Homo sapiens: one gene and its partners. The protein of the gene in region 1 purifies or fractionates together with the protein of each later gene. This does not show direct contact. Each region holds a gene or a part of one and is shown on either strand. Other genes may lie near its edges. The genes, in order: SHH, EDEM2 and DERL1.

Region 1 (4,419 bases):
TTTGTGGGGTCTGCCTGATAATCCCGGCCTGGCTCTCCTCACCCAACCCCCACTTGGGCCGTCCTTCCCCCTCCTTTTGTGTTGGGAACGGGAATAGCCACTGCCCAAGGAAAAAAGTATTTGTTTTCGTTTCGTTCGTCTGAGGGAAGTTGACAGAAGGTCAGAAGTTCAAATGCTGCCTGTGCGCGCGGCGGCGAGAGTGGCCGGGCGCGGGGCCGCTGGGCCCTGCGTCCCCCGGCAGGGCGGACGGGGGTCGGGGGGAGGCCCCCGGGCTGGGGGCTCCGGCTGGGACGCGGAGGCCTAGAGGCCAGGCAGGCGGCGGACTGGGGATGGGGGCGCGTCCCAGGGCAGGCCGGCGGAGCCCGCGATGCGCCCCGGCCCCTGCGCGGGCGCCCCCATCTCCGCGCCCCCGCCGCCGGGGACACTACAGCGAGCCCGGCGCTGCTGTTAGCTCCTGCGGTGCCTGCGCTCCCGCGCGTGGAGCAGCAGAGCCCGGCGGCTCCAGCCCAGCCCCTCGCGCACTGAAACCCTAGCCGCGGGGGATCGATAACCCGGGAGTAAGTGGGGCTGCAGGCGTCTGCCTCGCTGCGCGGCTCTGTGCGCTTGCAGCTTTGCAGCAGGGCTGCAAGGCCCAAGCCCTGGGAAGGTGTGCGAGCCCAGGACCCCTTCTGCGGTATTGGCCTCCCGCAGAGCAGGGCAGAAGCTGACCCACTCTGGCTCTGGGACCTCGGGTATCCACGCCCCCGCCGCTCTCTCCGCAGTGCCTCCCTCCTCTCGGGTTCCGAGGGACCCTGGCAAGGCCCCTCCTCCGCGGGGAGTGAGGGTGACGAGAGGATGGGCGCCTCGGGCTAGCCGGAGAACTCCCTCCAGCCAGCTGCACGCAACGGGCACCCCATGGCCCGTGCAGAGTTAATTGTGGATCGCGCTGCTGTCTGGCACTGGCGCGCGCGTCCACACTCGCGGTCCAGATTTAAGGTGGTCGGGAGCAGATGAGGGAGAGCAAGGAAATCAGGACCATTTCCCATTCCTCTCCCTTCCGACAGCTGGAGCAGGCTACCTTGCCTGCCCCTCGCCTTTCTCGGCCTCAAGCAAGCCTGGGAATCGGGTCGGGAAGCAGGGCGGCACGGAGGTAGCTCCTCTCTCTCTGCCGTCAGTACCCTCCCCCTGCACTTGCGCCCCACCAGCGCCACTCCATCAGCCGCTGTACGCACCTAGCCCTAAAGGTAGGACTTGAATATTTTAATAGGGCAATAAAAAGGATGTTGACCTATATTTGCAAGGAAACCCATTTCTGGCTTCAGTTATACGTGCATGGAGTTTCAGAAAGTCTAGAATTGGCTGGGAGATTGGCAGCTCAGAAATCTCAAAGGAGGTGGGGAGAGAGAGAGGAATTCATATTTTGCTTAGCTTCCCCTCCCCCCACACTAATATTTATTCGCTCTTAATTCTTATGCAAGCAGGTTGAAAACTAAAGTGATGCAATGCCAATAAGTTCTAAGTCCCTCCCCTAAGGTACCTCGGGCTTGGAAGAACGAAAGAGCATCCTTAAAGAAATATCAATACATTCACACTCTGATGGGCACAATTGCGGACACGCAATCGCAAAGCCAGCTCTGCGATACAGCCAGCCACCCAGGGACGGGCGGAGTCTCCCCTGGAGCCCCTGCCTTTTGTCAGAACCGCCTCCTGGCTTTTCCAGTTGAGAATTCTTTGGTGGGGAGGTGCAGGGTGGGGGTAGTGGTGGGAAAGAAAACCACAGAGGCAACGGGAAACGTGGGGGCTCTGAGCTCCAATGCCCAAGGCTACGTTCGTTCGTTCGTACAGTACCAGGAGACCACTTCATGTTTGTGGGAGGGGGATTCCCAGCCTCTCCTTCCATTTCCACTCCTGACTTGGAAAGGGCCGACGCCCCCAAAGTGAAGGTCTCCCCAAGTTACAAGCCAGGGCAGAGGTAGGATGGGGAAGGCCATTGTAGCAAGACTCATCAAATCAGGGCCATAATGAACCACGTCTGTTACCGTCCTCACCCCCACCACACCCTAAACTTCTCCAGCTGGACCCTTGACCTCCATTCTCCTCCAGGAAGAGGAAGAGATGGGGGGCGGGCAGGTGGGTGGGGAAGGAGCGGGTGAAATCACCTTCCTATCTGCCCGAAGAGCAAACAGAGTTAAGTCTGGAAGTGTTCGGCTTCTCGTAACCCCCTGGAAAGCCACACATTCCACGCCCCGGCGCTGGGTTCCTACCTGAGTCATCAGCCTGTCCGCTCCGGTGTTTTCTTCATCCTTAAATATGATGTCGGGGTTGTAATTGGGGGTGAGTTCCTTAAATCGCTCGGAGTTTCTGGAGATCTTCCCTTCATACCTTCCGCTGGCGCCTAGGGTCTTCTCGGCCACATTGGGGATAAACTGCTTGTAGGCTAAAGGGGTCAGCTTTTTGGGGTGCCTCCTCTTCCCGAACCCCCTGCCCGGTCCGCACGCCAGTCCCGAGCATACCAGCAGCGAGGAGACGAGGACTAGCAGCAGACATCTCGCCAGCAGCAGCATCTCGCCCATGGAACTGATGACTTCCGAGCTGTCCCCGTGCGGGTCCGTGCGCGAGTGCGCGCGGCGGGTGTGTGCGTGTGCGCTCTCTCTTGCGCTTTCCCTTCCTCGCTCCGGCTCGCCCGCTCGCTCTCTCCCTCGCTGGCTGCCTCGCTCTTTCTCTTCCTATATAACCTTGCCCGCCGCGGCTGCGGGGGACTCTCCACCGCTCCCCACCCAGACAGGGGCTGGAATGGCAGGCTGCCGGCCGCTGATAACGGAACACATCGGAGTTGGGTCGCGAGACAGCAATCAAAAGACAAAAAGAGTCTGATTTTAAATGGTAGCAAGCCTGGAGAGCTTGTGAGAGAGGCTGCCTTTAGCACTATATTATAGCTGCCAGGGGCGCATCTGATTGGCCAAAGCCGCACAAGCTTGTCTTCTGATGTTAACCCTGAAGAAGACTACGTTTTTTTTTTCTGTTGCTGCTGTTGCTTTATTTTCACCTGAAGGATTCGAGTTAAAAAAAAAAAAATCTTTCCTAAGATAAAGGTGGGCGGGAGGGAGGAGCGCATGTCTTGTGGTAACAGCAGTTACTCCCGGCTTTGTGTACATCCTTGCGTTTCCCCCTGACTTTCCCTGGAATGGTAGGTGCTTCAGTTAAAACCAACTTAAGTTTTTAAAGGACAGTTTAAACCCCCGCAAGCTTCAGTCATCAAGCACAGAGTCGCTCACACATTTGAGGGGCACAGCTGCCCAGCTGTTATTTAATTTTTCTTCCCCAGGGACTTTATAGTGCAGGCTGGCTCTCCCTGCATTTTGAAGAAAGAGGACTGAGCCCCTCCTGAAGACTCAGCCTCTGTGGACCGAGGATAATTATGAGTGACCATAACTTAAAGCACTGGTATTTGAAATGCTTTAAGTGCCTTAGAAAAATGTAAAAATACTGCTCTTTTATTGTGCTTCAATTAATACATTTTTTTTTTTGTAGAGCTCTGCAAATGGGATGGAGGCGTGCTCAAGGGCAGTTACAGAGTGAACTGCGGGCGTCAGGGTGGATGGGCAAAGCAGGTCTGGGGGCTGCACCCCAGCACAGGGGAGAGAGTGGGGGCCAGTGTGTGCGCTGGGTGTGTGGAGGCCATTGCAGGGTGTTGGGGGGGGGGCAGGCGAGTGGGCGAAGCTGTGCTCACACAACCCCCACGATCGATCAGAGCAAAGTGCAGAGCCAGGGGTGAGCTGAATGTGGAATTCAGGCTCCTTGCAAAGCTGGCCTTGTGTGGGGGCTCAGCAGGCCAGCAGTCTTCAGGCACAGGAGCCACCAGTCCTAGGGGCTGCAGCCCAAGGGGTCAGGGGCCCTGGGGGAACAGTGTTCTGGTTAACGAGGGGCTTCCTAGAAAGAGGGCACAGTGCCCAGGAGGTGGCAATCTTTGAGTCTATAATCACCTCACTTTTTGCAGAAAAAGGAAAAAAACTCAAAAGTCCTAAGTAAACCAGGAAAATAAAATTTGAAGCTCCCTCTCAACCCTGCTTTTCTTTTTTTTTTTAAAAAAAAAAAAACAGATCATGCCCTTCCCCTTCTCAATCGCCATCCCACTCATGTGCAATGATTCCTCTAGCATAGGATTAGAGAGTGAGGGTTATTTACGTGGAGGGGAAATCCTGACCCTGAGGAGTCATCAGATGCTGCAAATGTGGCCCTGTGAAGTTAAACACTCTCCCTTGACCCCGGGCCCTTGGAGTGGAGGGGGAGAGGACCCCTGTGAAGCTCAGCCCTCAAACGATGGAAGTTTCCAGAAGTTCCCTTTGCAGATCAACTTTTTGTGTGTGTGGTGGGGGAGAGAAGGAGAGGAGCATCTTAGGACACATCTGTCTTGGGCATGAGAGGCTGAGCGTTAACAAG
Region 2 (3,647 bases), on another chromosome or scaffold:
ATTAGCCAACAGGAGTGGGTCCAGATGAGAATATTTATTCTAGAGATAAGGAAATCCAAAAAAAATGTGTTTATTGCTTTCAAATACCTGAAGAACTGTTGTAGAGTTGACTTCAAGGGTGGCCTCAGCTCAGTATGTTTTTCTACTTCATCCATCTTTTCTAAGAGACAGAAGAACCCCTGTCTCCTTTCTATACCATCATCTCCCCCTGACCTTCTCCTGTCCTGTTTCCTCCTGGGCTTGATCAGTGCTTCTGTCCCTTTTGGCTTATTGCTGCAAACTCTGGTTCTTATTTTATTCCGTTAATTACTTTTTTGTGACAGAGTCTCACTCTGTCACCCAGGCTGGAGTGCCATGGTGCGATCTCCGCTCACTGCAACTCTGCCTCCTGGGTTCAAGGGATTCTCATGCCTCAACCTCCCAAGTAGCTGGAATTACAGGCATGCGCCACCAGCCCTGACTAATTTTTGTATTTTTAGTGGAGACAGGGTTTCGCCATGTTGGCCAGGCTGGTCTCAAACTCCTGACCTCAAGTCATCCGCCAGTCTTGGCTTCCTGAAGTGTTGAGATAACAGGCGTGAGTCACTGCACCCAGCCTCTAGTTCTTATTTTAGAGAAAAGGTCTCTGCCTATCTCCCCAGTTCTCTCTTACTTCCTCCTCCCCTCTCCTCACAGGCCTCTAGACAATTGCTAATCTAATTGCTCATATTCTAAGGCACAGACTAGGGTACATTCATTACTAGATGAACACATTCTGTGTGTTCAAAGGCAGAAAAGACAGTGCCCTCATGGGAGGCCTCCTCTTCTGCTTCTTTTTTCGGCTTCTTCTTTTTTTTTTTTTTTTTTTTTTGAGAGGGAGTTTTGCTGTGTTACCCAGGCTAGAGTGCAATGGCATGATCTTGGCTCACTGCAACCTCTGCCTCCCAGGTTCAAGCAATTCTCCTGTCTCAGCCTCCTGAGTAGCTGGGACTACAGGCACATGCCACCGTGCCCGGCTAATTTTTGTATTTTTAGTAGAGACAGGGTTTCGCCATATTGGTCAGGCTGGTCTCGAACTCCTGACCTCAGTTGATCCACCGCCTTGGCCTCCCAAAGTGCTGGGATTACAGGCGTGAGCCACCACACCCAGCCCTCTTCTGCTTCTAGCAGCTGGTGGGCCAGTGCCCTCATGACCAGCCATCACGCTTCTCTCCTCACATGTGGGCCTCCTAAGCATGTTAGTTATTGCTTTACTTTCCTGTGCATCTGACCAACTCTGTCGAGCAGTGGTCCCCAACCGTTTTGGCACCAGGGACCAGTTTCATGGAAGACAATTTTTCCATGAACTGGGCTTGTAGGAGATGGTTTTGGGATAATTCATGTGCATTACATTTATTGTGCACTTTATTTATATTATTATTACATTGTAATATATAATGAAATAATTATACAATCCACCATAATGTAGAGTCAGTGGGAGCCCTGAGTTTGTTTTCCTGCAACTAGACAGCCCTATCTGGGGTTGATGGATGACAGTGACAGATCATCAGGCATCAGCTTCTCCTAAGGAGCACACAACCTAGATCCCTCACATATGCAGTTCACAATAGGGTTTGTGCTCCTATGAACGTCTAATGCCACCACGGATAAGACAAGAGGCGGAGCTCAGGCAGCAATGTGAGCGATGAGGAGCAGCTATAAATATAGATGAAGCTTTGCTTGCTCACACGCAGCTCACCTCCTGCTGTGTGGCCTGGTTTCTAACAGGCCATGGACTTGTACCGGTCCACGGCCTGGGGGTTGGGGAATCCCTGCTCTAGAGGAAGGAGACAGCCCAAAGTTCAGATTTGGACTTAGAGGAAGGTAAAAGCCTGCAGAGGCCTTTAGGCTAGGCTCTGTGCTCCAACACTGCTGATCAGAGAGACATATACGAAAGTACAGGGCTCTGGCCAATTTAGTGAAAGAGTAGTCCTTATCTCCTATTTGCCATTGTTTTGGGGTAGGAGGGATGACTGGATTAACGCACTCCTGGATTCCTGACAGCGGTGCCTTATGTTTTTTTTTTTTGGAGACAGGGTCTCACTCCATTGCCCAGGCTGGATTGCAGTGGCGCCATCATGGCTCACTGCAGCTACGACCACCTGGGCTCAAGTGATCCTCCCAGGTAGCTGGGATGGGACTACAGGCATGCAACACCACTCTTGGCTAATTTATTTATATTTCTTATAGAGACAAGGTCTTGCTATGTTGCCCAGGCTGATCTTGAACCCCTGGGCTTAAATGATCCTCCTGCCTCAGGCTTCCAGAGTGCTGGGATTACAGGCATAAGCCACTGCATCTGGCCAGTAGTGTCTTACTTTCCATGAATGCCTTCCTGCCAGCCTGTCCCAAATGGAACAGGTTGCCTCTGTTAAGTAGCAAGCTCCTTGTCACTCGTGGTAACTAAGCAAAAACTAGATAACCACTTGACAGGGCCATATTAGGAAAATTCCAATTAGAACACCTCTCAGGTTCCCTCTAACCCTAAGATTGTGCAAGCCTATGTCTTACATTTAGTTCCAAACCCTAATCTTTACCTGTTGGTAACACCAGATACGATACCTTCTCAGAGCTTCTTATTTTTAAAATTTACTTATTTATTTTTTTGAGATGGAGTTTTGCTCTTTTTTGCCCAGGCTGGAGTGCAATGGCGTGATCTCAGCTCACTGCAACTTCTACCTCCCGGGTTCAAGCGATTCTACTGTCTCAGCCTCCCCAGTAGCTGAGATTACAGGTGCACGCCACCATGCCCAGCTAATTTTGTATTTTTAGTAGAGATGGGGTTTCACCATGTTGGCCAGGCTGGTCTCAAACTCCTGACTTCAGGTGATCCACCTGCCTTGGCCTCCCAAAGTGCTGGGATTACAGGCGTGAGCCACCATGCCCAACCAAGTTTCCTGTTTTAAAAACATGCCATGAGAACAAATGCATGAGAAACATCAATAACAGTGGCCTCTAAGGAGTCAAAAGTTGATGAATTTGCTCTTTATTCCCTCTCCTGGTCCCCTCTACACCTCCTACGATAATCACTTGAGTTAGAAGAGGAAGGAAATGGGGTAGAGGAAGGCAGGATAACCAGAAGGCCTGTCCCATGGCTAAAAGGCAATTCAGGTGGGAAAGTGGGAAGTGTCTAAGACAATGGGCTCATAGCCTGTTTTGGGGTGGGGGATGACTATGTGTGCTGACTAAGCTTCCTTCCTTTGTCCCTCTTTTTCTTTCCCTCCTCACAATTTTCAGCTTCCCTGAAGTGAATCAAATGACATTAGGGCTAGAAAGGAACCTATGAGAGTGTCTCAAATATAGTCCTTTGCTTGATTCTGAGCTGCAAATGGGGAGGTGGAAGAGACTAGGTAATTCCTAAGGTCCGCCCCAAAGTTCTAACATTCCATACACGTAAGCATAATTTATCTGACCCATGGACTTAGGAAGCTTGCCTACACTTCTGAAATCCTGATGGCAGGAGCTCAAAAGGAGTCAACCTTGGCCTTTTCCTTCTCACTCATTTCCTGATTTGAAAGAGCATATGGGGCCAGTCGCAGTGGCTCACATCTGTAATCCCAGCACTTTGGGAGGCCAAGGTGGGCGGATCACCTGAGGCTGGGAGTTCAAGACCAGCCTGACCAACATGG
Region 3 (3,647 bases), on another chromosome or scaffold:
TGATCATAAATGATCCACACTTAATCTATTTTACTATTGATATAACGTTTACTATCAATATAAAATAATTACTCCAGCTGGGCACAGTGGCTCACGCCTGTAATCCCAGCACTTTGGGAGGTCAAGGTGGGCAAATCTCTTGAGCCCAGGAGTTCAAGACCAGGCTGGGCAACATGGTGAAACCCCATCTCTACAAAAAATACAAAAGTCAGCCAGGTGTGGCGGTTTAACACCCATCCTTGTAGCTACTAGGGAGGCTAAGGTGGGAAGATCACTTGAACCCCGGCAGTCAAGGCTGCAGGGAGCCATGACTGTGCCACTATACTCCAGTCTGGGTGACAGAGCAAGACCCTGTCTCAAAAAAAAAAAAAATTACTCTAACAAATTAATGCTCAATTAAGTTATACCAGAAAGGCAGACTGCTAAGCACTCAGTATCATTATGGGTCCAACTGGAACAAAGGAGAATAAAAATCACATATTCTGGTAGATTTAAAGATCAAACCCCTAATATGGTGGTGAGAGGCCTAGTTGTCAGTTTCATTTCTGCCAAGTTACTTTACTTCCTTGAATCTCCTATTCATCTTTTGGTAAAACTCAGGAAATAAACTAGGTTCCTCCCAATAGTAATATAATAGTCTATGACCTTACACTTTGTATTAATACAATTTCTTTCTTTTTAAAAAGAACCTAAAAGCAAATGCCAATTTAAGGAAAAATGTTACTTGACATCAAATACCCATCCTACTATTTCCCTGCAGTGATGAGACTGATTCGCAATTCTCAACCATATGAGCACTGACTTACATACACTTAAGGGTAGTTCAGAGTTCTCTATCCTGAGGTAACAGCCAGCAAGTTTATAAAGTCTCTGAAGTCAGTCAGCCTTTTCAAAGTCATTTAAATTTAACAAAATTATATCCATATTGTAACACAGTGTATTGATGTATTGTTTCTTTAGTATAAGTGACTCAGACAGCATATAAGGTATTGTAGGAAATAAATGACAATTCAGTAAGACACTTTTACGAAAAGATTTTTCGAACTTATCCATAATATTACATAGGTTGGCTGGGCACGTTGACTCACACCTGTAATCCCAGCACTTTGGGAGGCTGAGGCAGACAGATCACTTGAGGTCAGGAGTTTGAGACCAGCCTGGCCAACAGGGTAAAACCCCATCTCTACTAAAAATATAAAAATTAGCCGGGTATGGTGGCAGGTGTCTGTAATCTCAGCTACTCAGGAGGCTGAGGCATGAGAATTGCTTGAACCCGAGAGGCAGAGGCTACAGTGAACTGAGATGGCACCACTGCACTCCAGCCTGGGCAACGGAGCAAGATTGTCTCAAAAAATAAATAAATAAATAAAATAAAATATTACATTGGTACTCATACCTGATAAACTACCATATATTATTAAATCTTGGCTATATACTGTATTTTAGAGTTGAGTTTTTCAATTAGAGAATAAATCTAGGCTTTTAATTACATAAATTGATGTTTTTCAACCCCAATCTAGGAGACATATATACTCCAGCCCAATTCTGCACTGAAGGACAAGGACTGCTGCAAAAGAAATGAGTGAGACCCTCAAAATAAATGAAAGGCACACAGCTCAGCCACTAAGGAGATGGACAAGCCATGTCAACCTCTGATCTGCTACTTTTTGCATCTATAAAATGGTAACACTGCTACTTATACCTCAGGATGTTGTGAGGATTAAAAATTGAGTAAGCTAAGTGCCTGGTGCAGTCCTGGCACAGTCACTAAGCATTTACTATCTTTATGCAGTTTCTTTTTGTAATGCTAACTGCCCTCCAAATTCCTCCAAAGTAAACACATGGATTAGTAAATGAGAAAGAAACAATGCTTAAAACAACTATGGGTAACATACCTGTTTCAAGTCGCGTAGAATACTGATATAAGAAATATAAATTGACCAAATAAAGAAATCCAGTTCCTGGACCCACAGGGAAATAAAAGGTGGCAGTGATTGGCCTCCAAATCTGTCCAGATCAAAATAAACACAGCTGTTAGTTTCTGTAAGCCTGGTTATTTCTTTCCCTTCTAACTAAACAAAATTAACAAAGCATCCTCCTCAATGAGAGGTGTGAAAGTGATCCTACCAACACAACTCAAGAAAACAACTGAAGAAAAGTGTTCACACCAAATACAATCACATCACTTTGCAAATCAATGGAATAAAACGACATCATAAAATAAGCAACAAATATTTCTAAACAAGTTGAAACAAAATCAATACTATATGAGTATATGGTTAGTCTTTGCTGAGATCAGGCATACAATTAAGCCTACATCAAAAAATGAATTACAAAGGCTTAATTTCCAACAGTACAGTAATGCCTCTATTTAGGGAAAGAATATTCTGGAATGACAAACCTTGTCCAAAAATGCCACATTCAAAGGCAGAAGTAAAACAACAATTTTTTATTCAAACCAATGCACTAAATAGGCAATAGGGGCACTTTTTCTTTAAAAACATTTCCCTGAAAAAACAAACAAAACATAAGAAGGGTCTAAAGTAACAAGCAGGCCAGGTTCGGTGGCTCATGCCTGTAATCCCAGCACTTTAGGAAGCTGAGGCAGGCAGATCACCTGAGGTCAAAAGTTCAAGACCAGCCAGGCCAACATGGTGAAACCCTGTCTCCAATAAAATTACAAAAATTAGCCAGGTGAGGTGGCGGGGGCCTGTAATCTCAGCTACTCGGGAGGCTGAGGCAGGAGAATCGCTTGAACCCAGGAGGCGGAGGTTGCAGTAAGCCAAGATCGCGCCACTACACTCCAGCCTGGGTGACGAGCGAAACTCCGTCTCAAAAAATTAAATTTAATTTAATTAAAATAAATTAAATAATAAAGTAACAAGTAAGCCTCATTCCCAACCTCCAGTCTCCCAGTTCCCCAACAACAGCTGATCAGTGTCTTGTATTTCCTCTAAGAAATACATGTTACTATTACTCATTCTTCTTTATCCTACTCTATACGGCACTGTTTTATACCTTGGTTCATTCCCTACAAAATATTTTAATTGGCTTCATAGTATTCCTTGTATGTGAATGTCTAAACTTTTGTTTAAACTGTTACAATGCCACAATGAATATTCTTGTATATCCTCTTTATATGTGCATATACAGAATAAGTTCCTGTCAATAAATCTGCTAGAGCAACAGACATAACCATTTATTTTGGTAGATACTGCCAAATGCCTACAAAAATGTTTGCTCAATTTATACTTCCTCCTAAAAAGTAGATGAATCCTGTCTTCTCTCCATACTCTCACCATTTCATGTATTATATATTCACCAATCTGAAAACTAATTTTTATTTGCATTATGAGAAGTCAAGCACCTTTTCACGTTTTAAAAACCTGAGCATTTCCTTTATTCATTTGTTTTTCTGGATTTACATTTTTTTTTTCCCCCCCGAGATAGGATCTTGCTCTGATGCCCAGGCTGGAGTGCAGTGGCATGATCCTAGCTCACTACAACCTCCACCTCCTGGACTCAGGTGATTCTCCCACCTCAGCCTCCCAAGTAGCTGGGACTACCAGCATGCACCACCACACCTGGCTAATTTTTATATTTTTTGTAGATACAGGGTCTCCTGATGTTGCCCAGGCTGGTCTCAA

What was found.
Region 2: the proteins of SHH (region 1) and EDEM2 purify together in Homo sapiens (affinity purification with western blotting, with the first as the bait; one study listed by BioGRID). This does not show direct contact.
Region 3: the proteins of SHH (region 1) and DERL1 purify together in Homo sapiens (affinity purification with western blotting, with the first as the bait; one study listed by BioGRID). This does not show direct contact.

Annotation. Positions count from the first base shown.
Region 1 is NC_000007.14:155,809,580-155,813,998, forward strand, and holds the start of SHH (sonic hedgehog protein isoform 1 preproprotein), read right to left. Parts: upstream 2,885-4,419; 5' UTR 2,544-2,884; coding exon 2,244-2,543; intron 1-2,243.
Region 2 is NC_000020.11:35,119,766-35,123,412, forward strand, and holds part of EDEM2 (ER degradation-enhancing alpha-mannosidase-like protein 2 isoform 1 precursor), read right to left. Parts: intron 1-3,647. UniProt on the Homo sapiens protein: Involved in the endoplasmic reticulum-associated degradation (ERAD) pathway that targets misfolded glycoproteins for degradation in an N-glycan-dependent manner.
Region 3 is NC_000008.11:123,028,710-123,032,356, forward strand, and holds part of DERL1 (derlin-1), read right to left. Parts: intron 2,048-3,647; exon of another isoform or gene 2,008-2,047; coding exon 1,896-2,007; exon of another isoform or gene 1,521-1,895; intron 1-1,520. UniProt on the Homo sapiens protein: Functional component of endoplasmic reticulum-associated degradation (ERAD) for misfolded lumenal proteins. Forms homotetramers which encircle a large channel traversing the endoplasmic reticulum (ER) membrane.